Linked DNA regions of Homo sapiens. The protein of the gene in region 1 purifies or fractionates together with the protein of each later gene. This does not show direct contact. Each region holds a gene or a part of one and is shown in the gene's direction. Other genes may lie near its edges.

What was found.
Region 2: the proteins of CNOT10 (region 1) and BTG3 purify together in Homo sapiens (affinity purification with mass spectrometry; one large-scale study listed by BioGRID and IntAct). This does not show direct contact.
Region 3: the proteins of CNOT10 (region 1) and CAPZA1 purify together in Homo sapiens (affinity purification with mass spectrometry; one large-scale study listed by BioGRID and IntAct). This does not show direct contact.
Region 4: the proteins of CNOT10 (region 1) and TNKS1BP1 purify together in Homo sapiens (affinity purification with mass spectrometry; 4 studies listed by BioGRID and IntAct, with this or other methods). This does not show direct contact.

What each region holds. Positions count from the first base shown.
Region 1 is NC_000003.12:32,768,146-32,772,597, forward strand, and holds part of CNOT10 (CCR4-NOT transcription complex subunit 10), read left to right. Parts: exon of another isoform or gene 1-1; intron 2-1,741; coding exon 1,742-1,817; intron 1,818-4,452. UniProt on the Homo sapiens protein: Component of the CCR4-NOT complex which is one of the major cellular mRNA deadenylases and is linked to various cellular processes including bulk mRNA degradation, miRNA-mediated repression, translational repression during translational initiation and general transcription regulation.
Region 2 is NC_000021.9:17,598,844-17,603,295, reverse strand, and holds part of BTG3 (protein BTG3), read left to right. Parts: intron 1-4,452. UniProt on the Homo sapiens protein: Overexpression impairs serum-induced cell cycle progression from the G0/G1 to S phase.
Region 3 is NC_000001.11:112,622,832-112,626,331, forward strand, and holds part of CAPZA1 (F-actin-capping protein subunit alpha-1), read left to right. Parts: intron 1-3,500. UniProt on the Homo sapiens protein: F-actin-capping proteins bind in a Ca(2+)-independent manner to the fast growing ends of actin filaments (barbed end) thereby blocking the exchange of subunits at these ends.
Region 4 is NC_000011.10:57,300,533-57,304,984, reverse strand, and holds part of TNKS1BP1 (182 kDa tankyrase-1-binding protein), read left to right. Parts: intron 1-1,889; coding exon of another isoform or gene 1,890-2,016; exon of another isoform or gene 2,017-2,120; intron 2,121-2,159; coding exon 2,160-2,526; intron 2,527-2,760; coding exon 2,761-2,911; intron 2,912-3,041; coding exon 3,042-3,178; intron 3,179-3,943; coding exon 3,944-4,101; intron 4,102-4,384; coding exon 4,385-4,445; 3' UTR 4,446-4,452.

The sequences.
Region 1 (4,452 bases):
AGTAAGCAAAATGCCATTAAGTATCATAAAGATGTTGCCTTGAATTCTTGTATTTTAAAAAAAGCTTCAGACTGTGGTCATTGAAAAAAACAGTAAATAAAATGTGTTACTAGCCACTTGGATGGAAAACAGAGATTTTACTATCCACAAAATGGGCCGGGCACAGTGGCTCACATCTGTAATCCCAGCACTTTGGGAGGCCAAGGCGGGTGGATCATCTGAGGTGAGGAGTTCAAGACTAGCCTGGACAACATGATGAAACCCCGTCTATACTAAAAATACAAGAAATTAGCTGGGCGTGGTGGCAGGAGCCTGTAATCCCAGCTACTTGGGAGGCTGAGGCAGAAGAATCGCTTGAACCCAGGAGGCGGAGGTTGCAGTGAGCCTAGATCGTGCAATTGCACTCCAGCCTGGGCAACAAGAGCAAAACTCCGTCTCAAAAAAAAAAAATCCACAAAATGGTATAAAGACGATCTTGCCTATACAGCTTGCCTAGAAAGCTAGGCTTAGATATATAAAATCTCATTTTCTGAAAAGAGTTGTTATACCTCAGTGTTGTGGCGAGAGGAATAAAAGCCTCCCCACCTCATTCATGAGGAACTTCTTAGAAGCACATGCTCTGGGCAACATGCCCCGCTAGTCTGAGATTTCTCCTAATGCTGCCAGAAACCAACCTAGTACACGTTTCTGGTCTTCCCCAACATCTCCCACGTTCAAGCTGCTACCTTCAGTACCATTTCTCCCCATTTTCTACCTGTGAGATATCTACCCTGCAAGGACTAAAGCAGGCCTCCCTTACCCCAAAGCTCTGTTTGAAAGAAACTTCTTCCTTTCTCTCCATATTCACAGCACATTCACTGCCTTTCTCCCTGGCATTTACGTAACTGTGTTTGGATTATTGTTAGTTATTTGCATGCTTGTTTGTTATCAGGGGAAGTCCCTGTCTTATCTCCATACCCACCTCTGTTCAATAAGTATTTGTAGAAGTCTATTATCTGATTAGATTAAGAGAAGAGGCAGAGCTGTCTGGAAGCAATGAGCAACTAAAACTAGATGGGGAAGTACAAGTTGATAATAAGGTGAGGAATATTTTGGCTGTAGCTCAAAGAGGCCCAGACTGAGGAAATAAACCTGTAATTTCAGCACTTCTGTCCAGAGCAGTCCAGGCTTCCTTCTTCAGGACTGGATCAGAGAGAAACTGCTGGCCGATGCTATGGCTCTTACTCAGATCTAAGGGCAGCATGTTGCCTAAACTAGTAAATTATTTTATTGGACTAAATTGAAGTGTGTTTCAGTCCTTAAGAATGGAGACCTCAAACATGCTACGTGGTACGTTTTTTCTGTATTACTATAAGTTTGAATTATTATTCCTGACATTGACAACTTACAGTTTGTAATACTGAAGTGTTACTTAGGAAAACAAATGGGCATGCAGATTTTGATGTAATTGCAACTGTATGTGTCTGTTGTGAAAGCCACCAGCAGAATTGGATGGTTGACTGTAGTATCGGGGTGTCCAGTCACCCATCTCAAAACCCAGAGTATTACATGTCTAGCTTAATTGTTAGGTTTTAAGACAAAAGGAACTGAGGCTCATCAGAGCAGAACAACAGGTAGTCCCTAGGAAGTCACGTGGGAATGAGCTTGAATAAGTTTGTTACCTTGTTGGTTGGCAGATGTACTTGGAGTGTGTATCTTAAGCTTTTGTTTTTTCACGGGCATCTTTCTGTTTTGAGCAAAGGCGGCTTCAATGATCCATCCTAAAGAGGTGCCCCCTGAGGCCATCTTGCTGGCAGTCTACCTTGAACTGCAGAATGGTGAGTAATTCTCTCTGTTTAGGACTTTATCCCTTGAAAGAGCCTGAGATTTTTTGGTTGGGAGACAGGGTCTCACTGTGTTGCCCAGGCTGGAGTGCAGTGGTACCATCAGAGCTCACTGCAGCCTCCAAACTCCTAGGCTCAAGCAGCCTTCCCACCTCAGCCTTCCAGGTAGCTGGGACTACAGGTGCACGCCACTGAGCCCAACTAATTTTTTAAATTTTTTTTAGAGATGTGGTCTCGCTTTGTTGCCCAGGCTGCTCTCAAACTCATGGGCTCAAGCAGTCCTCCCATCTTACCCTCCCTAGTAGCTGGGATGACAAGCATAAGCCACCATGCTCAGCCAAGGCTGAGATTTTTTTTTTTTTTTTTTTTTTTTTTGAGACAGAGTCTTGCTCTGTAGCCCAGGCTGGAGTGCAGTGGCGCGATCTCGGCTCACTGCAAGTTCCGCCTCCCGGGTTCATGCCATTCTCCTGCCTCAGCCTCCTGAGTAGCTAGGACTACAGGCGCCCGCCACCACGCCCACCTAATTTTGTGTATTTTTAGTAGAGACAGGGTTTCACCGTGTTGGCCACGATGGTCTCGATCTCCTGACCTCATGATCTGCCCACCTCGGCCTCCCAAAGTGCTTGGATTACAGGCGTGAGCCACCGCACCCGGCAAGGCTGAGATTTTTAATGTCTGTTTTTTCTCTTCAGAGTCAGAAATTTGCCTTCCTTGAAGATAGGTGACCCATCAAATTCTTTTTTTTTTTTCTTTTTTGAGATGGAGTCTCGCTCTGTCACCCAGGCTGGAGTGCAGTGGCACTATCTCAGCTCACTGCAACCTCCGCCTCCCGGGTTCAAGGTTCAAGAGATTCTCCTGTCTCAGCCTCTCAAGTAGCTGGGATTACAGGCACCCACCAACATGCCTGGTTAATTTTTGTATTTTTAGTAGAGACCGGGTTCACCACGTTGGCCAAGCTGGTCTTGAACTTCTGACCTCAGGTGATCTGCCTGCCTCGGCCTCTTAAAGTGCTGGGATTATAGGCGTGAGCCAGAGCGACGACCCATCAAATTCTTCTACATAAAAATATAGTTAGGAGCTGGGCGCAGTGGCACATGCCTATAATCCCAGCACTTTGGGAGGCTGAGGTGGGCTGATCACCAGAGTTCAGGAGTTCAAGACCAGCCTGGGCAACATGGCAAAACCCCATCTCTACAAAAAATACAAAAATTAGCTGGGTGTGGTGGTGTGCGCCTGTAGTTCCAGCTACTGGGAAGGCTGAGATTGGAGGATCACTTGAGCCCTGGAGGTTGAGGCTGCAGTGAACTGAGATCATGCCAGAATAAGACCTTGTCTAAAAAAATAATAATAGGCCGGGCACAGTGGCTCACGCCTATAATCCCAGCACTTTGGGAGGCCGACACGGGTGGATCATTTGAGGTCAGGAGTTCGAAACCAGCCTAGCCAACATGGTAAAACCCCATCTTTACTGAAAATACAAAAATTAGCCAGGCGTGGTGGCGCATGCCTGTAATCCAGGTACTTAGGAGGCTGAAGCAGGAGAATCGCTTGAGCCTGGGAGGTGGGAGGTTGCAGTGAGCCGAGACACACCACTGCACTCCAATCTGGGCGACAGAGTGAAACCCTGTCTCAAATAATAATAATAATAAATACCTATATCTATCTAGATAGATAGATAGATAAATAGATAAATTGATAGATATAGTTAGGGAGTTTTTGGTATCCTACAAATACTCCTTACAAGTTAAGCTTATCTCCTTTTATCTGAGAAAATACAGAATCATAACTTCAGACACTTAATTATAATTAATCACTATTAATTAACCTTTCTCCTAGGCAGCTAAATGACTGAGAACATGAGTTAGAATGCAGTTGCTTTGAGTTATACACCATAGTATTTTGAACACATATTAACAAGTTTTACAGTAAGCCAGTTCTTGCTGAGAATTATTTATTCAAACATAAATTCAGGTCATGCCTCTAGGGCATATACGATCTCCAAGATGTATCTCACTAGAAGAAAGGCTGTTGGCTCTAAATATGAGATAGCATGAAGTAGAAAAGAGACATGAATGAGAGAGATTAGAAGGGACAGAAATAGGCCAGGTGCGGTGGCTCATGCATGTAATCCCAACACTTTGGGAGGCCGAGGCGGGCAGATCATGAGGTCAGGAGATCGAGACCATCCTGGCTAACATGGTGAAACCCTGTCTCTACTAAAAATACACAAAATTAGCTGGGCGTGTTGGCATACAGTTGTAGTTCCAGCTACTCAGCAGGCTGAGGCAGGAGAATTGCTTGAATCCGGAGGCGGAGGTTGCACTGAGCCGAGATCGTGCCACTGCACTCCAGTCTGAACGACAGAGCGAGACTCCGTCTCAAAAAAAAAAAGGGACATAAATGAAGTCACAGCCAAGCATGGAGTCCTAGCTACTCTGGAGGCTGAGGCGGGAGGATTGCTTAAGGCCAAGAGTTCAAGGCTATAGTGTGCAGTATTGCTCCTGTGAACAGTCACTGCACTCCAGCCTGGGCAATATAGTGAGACCCTGTCTCTTTTTTAAAAAATAAAAAATTTTAAAAAGGCTGGGCACAGTAGCTCATGCCCGTAATCCCAGCTACTCTGGAGGCT
Region 2 (4,452 bases), on another chromosome or scaffold:
TTTAGATTCTGGGACTAATTAAGGACCTGCTTTAGGCTAGTTTCAGACTTGGAAAACTTTGGCCACTGAACCTGTGCAGAAGACCTCCATTTATAAGAAATAGCTGTCAAAAAGCTACTATATTGAATTGTTTACTTTTTAATTTGACCTGCACTTAGATCCTAGTTGGCTCCTATTTAACACACAGTTAAGTTAGTTGTGTGGTTTCTTAACCCATGAAATGTGAGAAGCAGCATTTTAAAGAGGGTTGATGAGTCAGACGCTACCAAAAAATGTCATGTGGTCTGACATAGAGGCAAAAATGAAAAAGCTAAAAAATCAGCACGATTATGTTATCACACAATCAAATAGTTTACGTTCAATATAATGATCCTAAACCATCAGGGGAAAGTTTTTATGTCCAAGGATGTTTAACAAGTTACATAATTATATAAACATTTTGGACCTATGTATTTAAAATGCTTAAAATAAGTCTCAGTACCTGAACATAAAAACTTTAGTTATACGGACATTCTACTTCAGTAGACATTTCATTACTTGATGATGCCTGGTAGGAAAAAACTGCTACTTTGCTTTCATCTTATTAATCTTAGAAAACCTTTTCATTCAGTAGGCTTCTAATTTATATGTAAATTTGCCAAAAATTGGCTCTGATGTGATTTTTTTCACAGCTAATAGAAATCACCTGCGAGTGTCAGGTGTTCATTCAATAACAGAACCCCAAAAAGAAAGACGTATTAATCGTTTAGTAGAGGTGGTTGATATAAGTTAACAGAAGAAAAAGACATTGAGAAATATTTTTTCACCAAAACTGGAAACATAGATATTTTGAAAATTAAAGCTGATCTAGCAAGTATACAATTGATCAAATATCTGAGAATCTTTAAAAATAATAACTCATTGGTATACTAGAGACTAAGATTGTAAAAAAAAATTGAGATGCACTGAGAACATTCTTCATAGTCTTCACTTACTCTGATAGAATAAAATGCTGCAAGAGTACAAAGAGTGCCATATAGTTAGAAAGGTTATCACTTCGTGATACAGAATAGAAAATAAATCTTGCCTATGATGAGAAGTTCTGAGAACAGATGCCAGCTTATCTACTCAACATATTTTACAACTTTTTTTTTTTTTGGTGATTTCTGCCATCCTTTTTTTCCCCCAATAGAGTGTTAAATACTATTGATTGTTTCTAAATAACTAAATTAGCCTTGATGTTTTATCAGTGATCATTGAAAAATGGAAAGTTTAAAAGTTGTCCAGGTGTCTACTAATTCTCCTAAGATATCGACTGCACATTGTAATGTTATAGTAGTATAGTCAGCAGCTTCTCTTACCATGAAGAGAGAGCCTTCATACCAAAATAGTACAAAGGGAAAAATGCAGAACCAAACTAGGTGTCAAAGAAATCTGAGTTAATAATGCTGATCCTTCAATCATTAGATATTTGCCCTTGGTTGAGGTTTCTGTTTACAAAGGCAGGAATTTTTCTCAAATTTCTTGCCTTTCCATTTTTGAATTTTGATTCCATTAATGGGCAAAACTGAAGATAGGCCTAAGTCATTGTTATATTAGTGTCATTAACACATGAATTAACCCTTGATTGTCTTGAAATTTGTTGAGTCTTCCAACTGTGGAGGGGACATGGAGTAAATGTGTATTGCTAAAACCTTATGCTAAGTAAACTTGAAATTAGAGAACACAAATTTTATGTTGTGAGGAACTCAATTGTTTAGGAATTTATTTTTTGTTTGTTTTGTTTTGTTTTAGAGAGAGGGTCTTGCTGTGTTGTCCAGGCTGGAATGCGGTGGCATGATCATAGCTCACTATAATTGTGAACTCCTGGGCTCAAGCAATCTTCCTGCCTTGACCTTCCAAAGTACTAGAATTATAGATGTAAGCTACCATGTCCAGCTTCTGTTTAGGTATTTTATACTACGAAGAGTCACCAGCCGTAGATCAACCACTATCTAGCCAGCTCCAGCTTCCTCGTCCAGCATATAGGAAACTAAGGCCTAGGGAAATTAAGTGACTTGCCTCTGGTGACCAAGCTAGTCAGTGGCAGAGCCAGAATGAGAAACTAGTCTAATGCCCTTTCTACCATCCCGTAGCAACTTTTTTTTTTTTTTTGAGACGGAGTCTCACTCTGTCGCCCAGGCTGGAGTGCAGTGGTGCGATCTCAGCTCACTGCAACCTCTGCCTCCCAGGTTCAAGCAATTCTCCTGCCTCAGCCTCCCGAGTAGCTGGGATTACAGGCGCACACCACCATGCCCGGCTAATTTTTTGTATTTTTAGTAGAGACAGGGTTTCACCATGTTGGCCAGGCTGGCCTCGAACGCCTGACCTCATGATCCACCCGCCTTGGCCTCCCAAAGTGCTGGGATTACAGGCATGAGCCACCGCGCCCAGCCCCTGTAGCAACTTTTATGAGGTAAACTAAAAAAGAATACAAAAGCGAAGTTATGTACTATATTTAAGTAGTATTTATAGTTTCATTTGGCCTATAGGAATGGAAGACAGCATAGCTATCTGAAGAAATAGAACTCATCTATGTGTGATCTCTGAGACTGCTAGATTTCCACATACATTTTCTTTTCTGTTTTTTTAATTTTTTGTTCTTGTTTTTTTGTTTTTTTGAGAGACAGGGTCTCACCATGTTACCCAGACTGGTCTCAAATTCCTGGGCTCAAGCAGTCTGCCCACCTAGGCCTCCTGAAGTGCTGGAATTACAGGTGTAAGCCACTGCACCCAGCCTCATGTACATTTTCAAAGGCTTTATAGCAGTTAAGCCTTTTACTTTATAATAGATAACCATTCTGATTCAGAAATAATTTGAGACGAGTGCTATCTTGAAATGAATTAACTTCAGCTAACTATTGAATCAAAAGCTTGACATTATTTCTACTTAGAGTTACTTATTTTTATCTTTTTTCAAACTTAGAATCACTTTAATTACATTTCTAACTGTATGTGTTTTGTAAGAACCGCTTAACAATATCCTTTGTCCTGATGCTAGAAATTGTTTGATAGTGTTGACACTGTGCAATCTATTTAAATAGATTTGTGGATTTCTCCTATGTCCACTGAATAAAAACTCTTGGTTTTACTTGAGTTTATTACACTATTTTCCTACAGTTCAGAATTTTTTTTTAAGTAACCAGCAGCATATGTTACATATTTTGACAACTTAAAAAAAATCAAAAATCTTCAAAAATGTTTTGGAAGAATAACAAGATTTTTTCATCTTACCTTAAAAAAAATTAAGATGAGAGGTGAGTAGTTATCCTAGGAAACTCTGAAGTAAGCAATATAATTTAAGCAAAACCTCTATATTCTTCAACAACTATCTTTTTTCTTTAATCTCAATAACTGCCTCAGTTCTCATTTTTGTGAGTATAAATAACAGGCCCCCTTTTTTATTTAATTGGGGTTAAAGTCAATTTTATAGGAAATTTCTAGTTGATCTGTGACTTGAATTACTAGCATATATGTTACATTTATAAGTACAGCTGGGGCTGGGCGTGATGGCTCACGCCTATAAACCCAGCACTTTGGGAGGCCGAGGCGGGTGGATCACCTGAGGTCAGGAGTTCAAGACCAGCCTGGCCAGCATGGTGAAACCTCATCTCTACTAAAAATACAAAAATTAGCTGGGCGTGGTGGTGGGCACCTGTAATCCCAGCTACTTAGGAGGCTGAGGCAGGAGAATCACTTGAACACCTGGGAGGTGGAGATTGTAGTGGGCCGAGATTGCACCCATTGCACTCCAGCCTGGGCAACAGAGTGAGACTCCGTCTCAAAAAAAAAAAAAAAAAAATCAGCCAGTGGCGCATGCCTGTAATTCTAGCACTTTGGGTAGCTGAAGTGGGTGGATCTCTTGAGCCTAGGAGTTTGGGACCAGCCTCAGCAACATGGTGAAACCCTGTCTCTAAAAATGTATATAAATTAGCTGAGCATGGTGGTACACTCCTGTAGTCCCAGCCTCTTGGGAGGTTTGAAGTTGGAGGATCGATCACCTGAGCCCAGGAGGTAGAGTCTGCAGTGAGTTGTGATTGTGCCACTGCACTCCAGCCTGGGCAACAGAGTGAAACCCATCTCAAAAAAATAAAAATACATCAGAATGTTTTATTGTACAACCAATTTCATTGGTACATACAAAAATGTAATCAAAACAATGGACTTTTTTTGATGTTTTAAACAATTTTTTTTTTAGGAATTAGTAGAAAGAAAATAAGGGAAAGAAAATGGGGTTATGTTTATGAATACTTAAATAGACCAGAAGTAGAAAACTGTGGTTTGCTTGCTGGCATTGAGCTGTATTAGGATATTAAATGTGTAGGGTCAAGTTCTGTGATGATTCAATCTTTGCCTTGTATTGATGGCATGTCCAGATCTCTTTGTTTTTATGGACATTTTTTGCTTTGCTGATGTGACTTCAAGATTTGTAAG
Region 3 (3,500 bases), on another chromosome or scaffold:
AAATAGATGAAATATGAGGGCTTTGTTAGAGCACATGAAAAATATTTTATACTTTTTTTTTTTTTTTTTGAAACGAAGTCTTGCACTGTCTCCCAGCGGGCTGGAGTGCAGTGGTACGATCTCGGCTCACTGCAACCTCCACCTCCTGAGTTCAAGTGATTCTCCTGCCTCAGCATCCCAAGTAGCTGGGATTACAGGCACCTGCCACCACACCCGGCTAATTTTTTGTATTTTTAGTAGAGACAGGGTTTCAATATGTTGGTCAGGCTAGTCTCAAACTCCTGACCTCGTGATCCGCCTGCCTTGGCCTCCCAAAGTGCCGAGATTGCAGGCGTGAGTCACTGCACCTGCCAAATATTTATGCTTTTAAACTGGATCCTTGATTATGTATTACCTCCTTAATTTACTAGTTACCATTGTAGGATAAAGCAAGCCCTAAAGATTGTTTGGTGTGGCTGTTTTCTAACAAGTCATCAATTAATATTAAAACTGTCATTCTTCCATCTTCACTTTTCAGTTAGTTTTGCTGAGAGGTATTCATATAATCTGTTAAGACATCCTAGGACAGGCCGGGCCCAGTGGCTCACGCCTGTGACCCCAACACTCTGGGAGGCCGAGGCAGGTGCATCATCTGAGGTCGGGAGTTTGAGACCAGCCTGACCAACATGGAGAAACCCCATCTCTACTAAAAATACAAAAATTAGCTGGGCGCAGTGGCACATGCCTGTAATCCCAGCTACTCAGTAGGCTGAGGCAGGAGAATCGCTGGAACCTGGGAGGCGGAGGTTGCGGTGACCCGAGATCACGCCATTGCACTCCAGCCTGGGCAACAGGAGCGAAACTCCGTCTCAAAAAAAAAAAAAAAGAAAAGAAAGCCCGGGCGCGGTGGTTCATGCCTGTAATCCCAGCACTTTGGGAGGCCGAGGCGGGTGGATCACGAGGTCAGGAGATCGAGACCTGACCTCAGGAGATCGAGATCCTGGCTAACGCAGTGAAACACCGTCTCTACTAAAAATACAAAAAAATTAGCCGGGCGTGGTGGCAGGTGCCTGTAGTCCCAGCTAATCGGGAGGCTGAGGCAGGAGAATGGTGTGAACCCGGGAGGCAGAGTTTGCAGTGAGCCGAGATTGTGCCACTGCACTCCAGCCTGGGTGACAGAGCAAGACTCCATCTCAAAAAAAAAAAAAAAGAAAAAAGAAAAGAAAAAGAAATCCTAGGACAGGAGCATAAAGCCTAATAAGCAGGTGCAAACTCACATGTCCAGTCTTGTTAGTAGTACTGATTTATCATAATTTCTTCCAGAACACTTAGCTGTTTTATTACGACCAGGCTTAATGCTAAACAAAGTAGTGTAAATTTGTCAGAAAATTCAGATCCCAGGTTTTTCTGATTATGTAGCCATGCTTTTTTCACTATACTTTTCTTTTCCATATAGGTATGAATGAAAAACCAGAGTAGAGACATCCATTTAGTGGATTATAAATGAGGTATTATGGGCTGGGCATGATGGCTCACGCTCGTAATCCCAGTACTTTGGGAGGCCAAGGCGGTCAGATCATCTGAGGTCAGGAGTTAGAGACCAGCCTGACCAACACGGTGAAACCCTGTCTCTATTAAAAATACAAAATTAGCCAGGTGTGGTGGTGCATGTCTGTAATCCCAGCTACTCAGGAGGCTGAGGCAGGAGAATAGCTTGAACCCAGGAGGCGGAGGTTGCAGTGAGCCGAGATCGCGCCATTGCACTCCAGCCTGGGCAACAGAGCAAAACTCCATCAAAAAAAAAAAAAAAAAAAAAAAAAAGAGGTATTATGATGTAATGGAAAAGAGTGATTGTGAGTGTTAGATATGGCCTTTCCCTTTCGTGCTTCTAGCCACCTTGTCACTGATTTTGGAAACCTCACTTAACCTCTATGGGTGGGCCTCAATTTCCATCTAAAATAGAGAAGTAGGGAGGAATTGGATCAAACCAGCCCAAGAAAATTTAATTAACTATTTCAAACTCTAATGAAAAATCTCTACTTTAAAAATTGAAACACAAAAATGTTCTGGGAGGTTCTATTCATTGTCTGCTTTCCTACATTTGCCCTGATTACAAGACTGAGTTCCTTGATAATTGAAACCATGTCTCTTTATCTAGTGCCTAGCATAGTGCCAAGCACACAGTGTATGCACAGCCTATTGGTATGAAAGAGAACACAACTTCATTAATTCTCATATCTCTCCAGTTCACACCCCTTCATCTCCTGTAAAACACCCCTTCCCCTACAATTATTTCTGTTAGTCTCTAGGTGTTTCTTGTATTCAAGAGTATGTCCACAGTTTGGGTGCCTCTGTGCATTCCTTCTATCTGAGCATCTGCCATCATTGGTGCTCTGCCATGCCACTGCTGGGAACATTTGACCCCTCTGGGAGCATCTTCCTAATAGATCCCATAAACTGCAAAGCCTTATGGTTACCAAAATGATGGTGTATATATATACTTGGAGCCTTGCAAAGCCCCTAATGAAAGTATTTCCTTCACCAGCTAGAAGTACTCTCCTTTAGCGATCAGATTAAAACACACACCCAGGTGTGTGTTTTAAAGAAAAAGGACCCAAGAGGGAAAAAGTTTCCAAGGCATGAATGAATTAAGAGTGGCAAATGCTACTGAGATAGAAAGATTAGGACGGAGAAAACAGCACTCACTCTGACAGTATTCTTTCCAACTGGATTTGGTAAATAAGAGTGAAGAGGTACCTCGAGTGAGCACTGGGAGAAGTCATACTGGAAGGGATAAGCAGTGATTGACATAAGAAAGTAAAATAAATTCAGGTTCATCCAGACACCCCCATAATCTTGCCTTGACCCAGAAACATTGTGTTCACAGGACTTTCAGCTTCCCACCCCCATAAGTAAGCTTCCTAATTATGATATCTTGGTCTTGCCAAGCATTTAGAGGGCCTTACTCTGTGGCCCTCCAGATAGTGATTTGAATGATTAAGTAAACCTCTTTTTAGATAAGTGTTCTAGTCCAGTCTAACATCAGCTTGTTGGTCTTTTTGGCACTGTCATTGTCCAGTACCAGCACATTCTTGGCTCCTTGCCACATCTCTGGCCTCAATGTGGGAGGCAAAGACAGTGAGCATTTCCAGAGTGGTGAGATGGGTGCAGCACATAATGAGGCGATGACCACACAGCATCTCTGAACAGCATGTCCACACAGGGCTCGAAGTCATTATGCTGCATGTCCACCTCATGTCCACAATAGCTGAGCAGTTGAGATTGGTGGAGTGGACCTTCTCATTACTCATCATCTAGAGGAAGGTCCTCATCATCTCTACTTCTCAAAGGGGTAGAATTGAACCTGAACCTGCTTGACAGACAAGAGCCCAAGCCTAACCAAGGTGGCTGCCATGGTGACCCTTGCCCTGAAAGCCATTTCCATTAATTTAAAAATTGTAGGTATATAGGAACTATAATAACAGGCTTAAAATTAAAATTTGCTCTGTTTGTTGGGTCAC
Region 4 (4,452 bases), on another chromosome or scaffold:
ACTCGCCACTCTCTGCTCCTCAAGGCCACCTCCAGAGCTCACTGACCTCTGCCTGAGTGGCTTGGGCCACCTCTCGCTTTAGGAGTGGATTTTTTTTTTTTTTTTTTTTTTTGAGACGGAGTTTTGCTCTTGTTGCCTGGGCTGGAGTGCAGTGGCGCGGTCTTGGCTCACTGCAACCTCCACCACCCGGGTTCAAGCGATTCTCCTGCCTCAGTCTCCCCCAAGAAGCTGGGATTACAGGTGCCTGCCACCATGCCTGGCTAATTTTTGTATTTTTAGTAGAAACAGAGTTTCACCATGTTGTCCAGGCTGGTCTGGAACTCCTGACCTCAGGTGATCCGCCTGTTTTGGCCTCCCAAAGTGCTGGGATTACAGGCGTGAGCCAGGGCATTTCACATCTCTTTAGCTCATGGGGCCTGCCCTTAGCCTTCTTTTGCCCCACCCCAGGGAGAGGCTTTGGGCCTGGCCTCTGTAGTCTGGGTGGGGTGCTGTTGCCACCCCCTCCCTCCAAATTCTCCCTGATTTTAAGCTGGCTGTCAGGGTGAGCTGGCTTTGGCCCCCAGCCAGGGCTGCTCCCAATTCTGCTGCCTTGCTGTACTTCTGCTGCCGCCACTGCCTCCTCCCCCAATGTCTCTCCCCAGACCACTTTAATTTCCATCTGTCAGCAGCTTGTGGAAGGACAGACTACCACTCATGCTCTCTCTCCCTGCCCCCTCTTCCTGCTTGGTATTGACTCACCTGCCCCACTCTCCTCCTGCTTTAATCCCAGTGGGAACCTGGGGCCTGGCTTCCAGGCACTGCCGTGCCAGGCTTTCCCACACCTCTGTGCGTAGTATGAGTGTGTGTGTGTGGGGTGGGGGTGTGGGGATGCGGGGATGCGTGTGTTTGTGTCAGGTGTGGCTCTGTGCCGTGCCTGTAGATGTGGTGGGTGCGAGGTCCATCTGGGGGAGTGACAAACAGCGCACAAGCTCTCTGCCTGAGTGTGTGTGATGGTGATGAATGTGAATGTGTCATTTTGGGGAGTGGCCGCTGGACAGGGCGGGCAGTATGAGTTAGTGAGAGAGTGTGTGGTGTGCTTGTGCCGTGTTTGTATTTTGTTTTTAGATGGGGTCTTGCTATGTTGCCCAGGCTGGTCTTGAACTCCTGGGCTCACGTGATCCCCCTGCCCTGGCCTCCCAAGTAGCTGGAATTACAGGCGTGAGCCCTGCACCCCATGTCCAGCTGTATTGTGTTTTGAGGAAGCAGCAGACAGAAGATGCATATGCTGCATGGAGGTCCAAGGTGACCCAGCCCCTCATTTGCTTGGCAAACATTTGCTTAGTCCGGCGCGTAGCCAGGCTCTGGGTCAGGTGCTGGGGGCATAAAGGCAGAAAGGGCCCCGTTTTTGCCCTTGAGGAGCTCACCGACAGGCTATGGGGACAAAGAACCACAGGAAAGAAGCAGGAACTGGCATGGATTGGAGCCCAGGGCTGGTAGGGCTGAGGCGGCCATGGTGGCTGGGAGGGGGCAGGGCAGCTTCGGAAGCAGAATTGAACCAAGGGGACAGTACCACCAGGGACGGTGTGGTGCGGGGAGCTTTCCAGAAGAGGGAGCAGCTCGTTCAAAGCCAGCAGCATGTGAGGGCCGGGTGTCTTCTGATGGTCCCTGGTTGCTCTGTGAGCCTGGGGAATGAAGAGGCATAACGTGGGGGCTGAAGACAACATGAGTCCGGAGAGGCAGGTGGGCCAGTACCTGGCTCACCCCAAGGAGTGTGACTGCCCGAGCACGTGGCCCTGGGAGGGAACACATTGCTAGCATGCAACAGCAGCAGGAATAATGGCTGCTGCTTCTGCGGTGCGTGCTGACCAGGACTGTGCTAAGTGCTTTAGATTTTTCTTTCATCCTTGCAGCGACTCCGTGCAGTTAGAGGAGCCTGAGCTGTTTCCAGGGGAGGGGGCTCACCCGAGGTCTCAGGGATTTGAACCTGCCAGACTGGCTCAGCTCTTCACCTGTGTGCTGTGTTGCTCAAGGCCCTGACCGTGTCCTTGGAGTCTGGAAAAAGCATGGGAAGGAGGGCAAGGGAGAGTTTGGGGGCTGGGGGAAGGAGCTTGTGAAGTAGGCTTCAGGGCAGGGAGATGGGGCCTTACGATGATCTCGTTCTCTCTCTGTCCCCTTTACAGCCCTGGCAGGTGCCCGGCCCGCCCCCCACCCTCCGGCTCCCAGGGCCTGCTGGAGGAGATGCTGGCAGCCAGCAGCTCCAAGGCGGTGGCTCGGAGGGAGTCAGCGGCCTCGGGCCTTGGGGGCCTGTTGGAGGAGGAAGGAGCCGGGGCAGGTGCTGCCCAAGAGGAGGTGCTGGAGCCTGGCAGGGACTCTCCACCCTCCTGGAGGCCGCAGCCTGATGGTGAGGCCAGCCAGACAGAAGACGTGGATGGCACCTGGGGCTCTTCAGCAGCCAGGTGGAGCGATCAGGGGCCAGCACAGACTTCTCGGCGACCCTCCCAAGGCCCTCCTGCCAGATCCCCCAGTCAGGACTTCTCCTTCATTGAGGTCAGTGGAGGGTGAGCCCATGACAGTGGGTGGGTGAGGGCGATGCAGCGAGAGCCCCATTCCTGGAGCTTCCCTGAGCAGTCCCAGTCCAGGAGGCAGAAAGCGGGTTGTAGGTGCGTCACGTGAACGTGAAGCTCCGGCTGCAGGAGGGGTCCAGCTCCTGGTCAGCTACTGTTGAGGGGCTCCCGTGGGATGAGGCAGCAATGGCAGTGGTGTCACCATTGCCCCAAGCAGGACACCGAGATCCTCGACAGTGCCATGTATCGGAGCCGTGCCAACTTGGGGCGCAAGCGTGGGCACCGGGCCCCGGTCATTCGGCCTGGGGGTACCTTGGGCCTGTCGGAGGCAGCAGACTCGGATGCACACCTGTTCCAGGACTCTACAGGTAGGGCTGATGTATTATTTGGTGATGTCTCTTGATCTCTAGGGCATTAGGCCAAGCTTTTGCAGGGGTTATGGGTTCGGGGAGTCTGGGTGTGCTGCCTTTTCTGAGCCCCTTTCCCGGGCCTTTGCAGAGCCACGGGCATCTCGGGTGCCATCTTCAGATGAAGAGGTAGTGGAGGAACCTCAGAGCCGCCGGACACGGATGTCGTTGGGCACCAAGGGGCTGAAAGTCAACCTCTTTCCTGGCCTGAGCCCCTCAGCCCTGAAGGTACCATCTGATCATTAAGCAAACATGTCCAGCCATCTGGCCAGGTGGCCACCTTGCATGCTGTCTTTCTTCTCTTCATCCATCAATTCATTCCCCTGTCCCCCTCTCCCATTCCTCCTCTCACTCTCCTCTCCATCGAGGGCTCCAGAAGATCCCTTTGTGCCCCGCCGGGCCCTATGCTGTGTGCCAAATGGGATGGAAAGAAGAACAAGATGTGTTCTTATTCTGGAACCTCAGGGGCAGTGGGAGACATGATGCCCATAATTAGCCTGGATGAGAGAAGAAGTTTAGGTGTCCCTGAGGAGAGGCACAGATAAGGGCTGGGCCTGTTCAGAGAGAGAGGAGTTATTTCCTAACAGCAGAGTGGAGGGGGATGGGAAGGGAGGGTGGATTGGAGAAGGCCTCTTGTATGTATTTGATCTTAGCCGGCGGCAGGCACAGGAGTTGGCTCCTGGAGCTGGGATGGTGGGGTGGCATTGCAGGCAGAGGGAACAGGGGTGGGAAGTCACCACTGGCTTTGTCCCACCCAGTTTGTCTGAATTCAATCCTGCCATATGTTTTTGAGGACAGAAAGGTGTGCAAGGCATAGCTCAGTTCTGCGGGAAGTGCATCTCTAAGTGACTTCCCATCCTTTGGGGTGAAAGGACTGCAGAGGGGTCTCTGCTTGATTCTGGGGACTGCACACTCTTGAGATAAGGTCTTACCCCCTGAGAGTCCTACTGCCTGTCCCTCTACTATCTATCTGCTTCTGGACTTGCTTCTCAGGCCAAGCTGCGCCCCCGGAATCGCTCAGCTGAGGAGGGAGAGCTGGCTGAGAGCAAGTCGAGCCAGAAGGAGTCCGCGGTCCAGCGTTCGAAATCCTGCAAGGTCCCAGGACTGGGAAAGCCCCTCACGTTACCTCCCAAGCCAGAGAAATCCTCAGGGTAGGTGACCTAAGCTCTGGGCATCCGCTGACCTCACTGTATTACCCTGATGAAAAGGGAAACTCTCACTTCACAGAAGAGGCAAACTGAGGCTCAAAGAGGAACCTCAGTCGGACATGCCCCAGATGAACGGTATGAAGATGGTGTCAGAATTTGGGTCCCTGCAGCCAGGCCCCAGACTGCCTCTTCTGGTTAGAGGGTGGTTTCTGTCCCTATCACGTCTCCTTGTTGTGTTCAGTTTCCTCAAAGTTTGCATTCTGGACCTTTGCCGTCTGCCTCCTAGGTCAGAAGGATCGTCGCCCAACTGGCTTCAAGCCCTGAAACTGAAGAAGAAGAAGGTCTGAGAAGTCA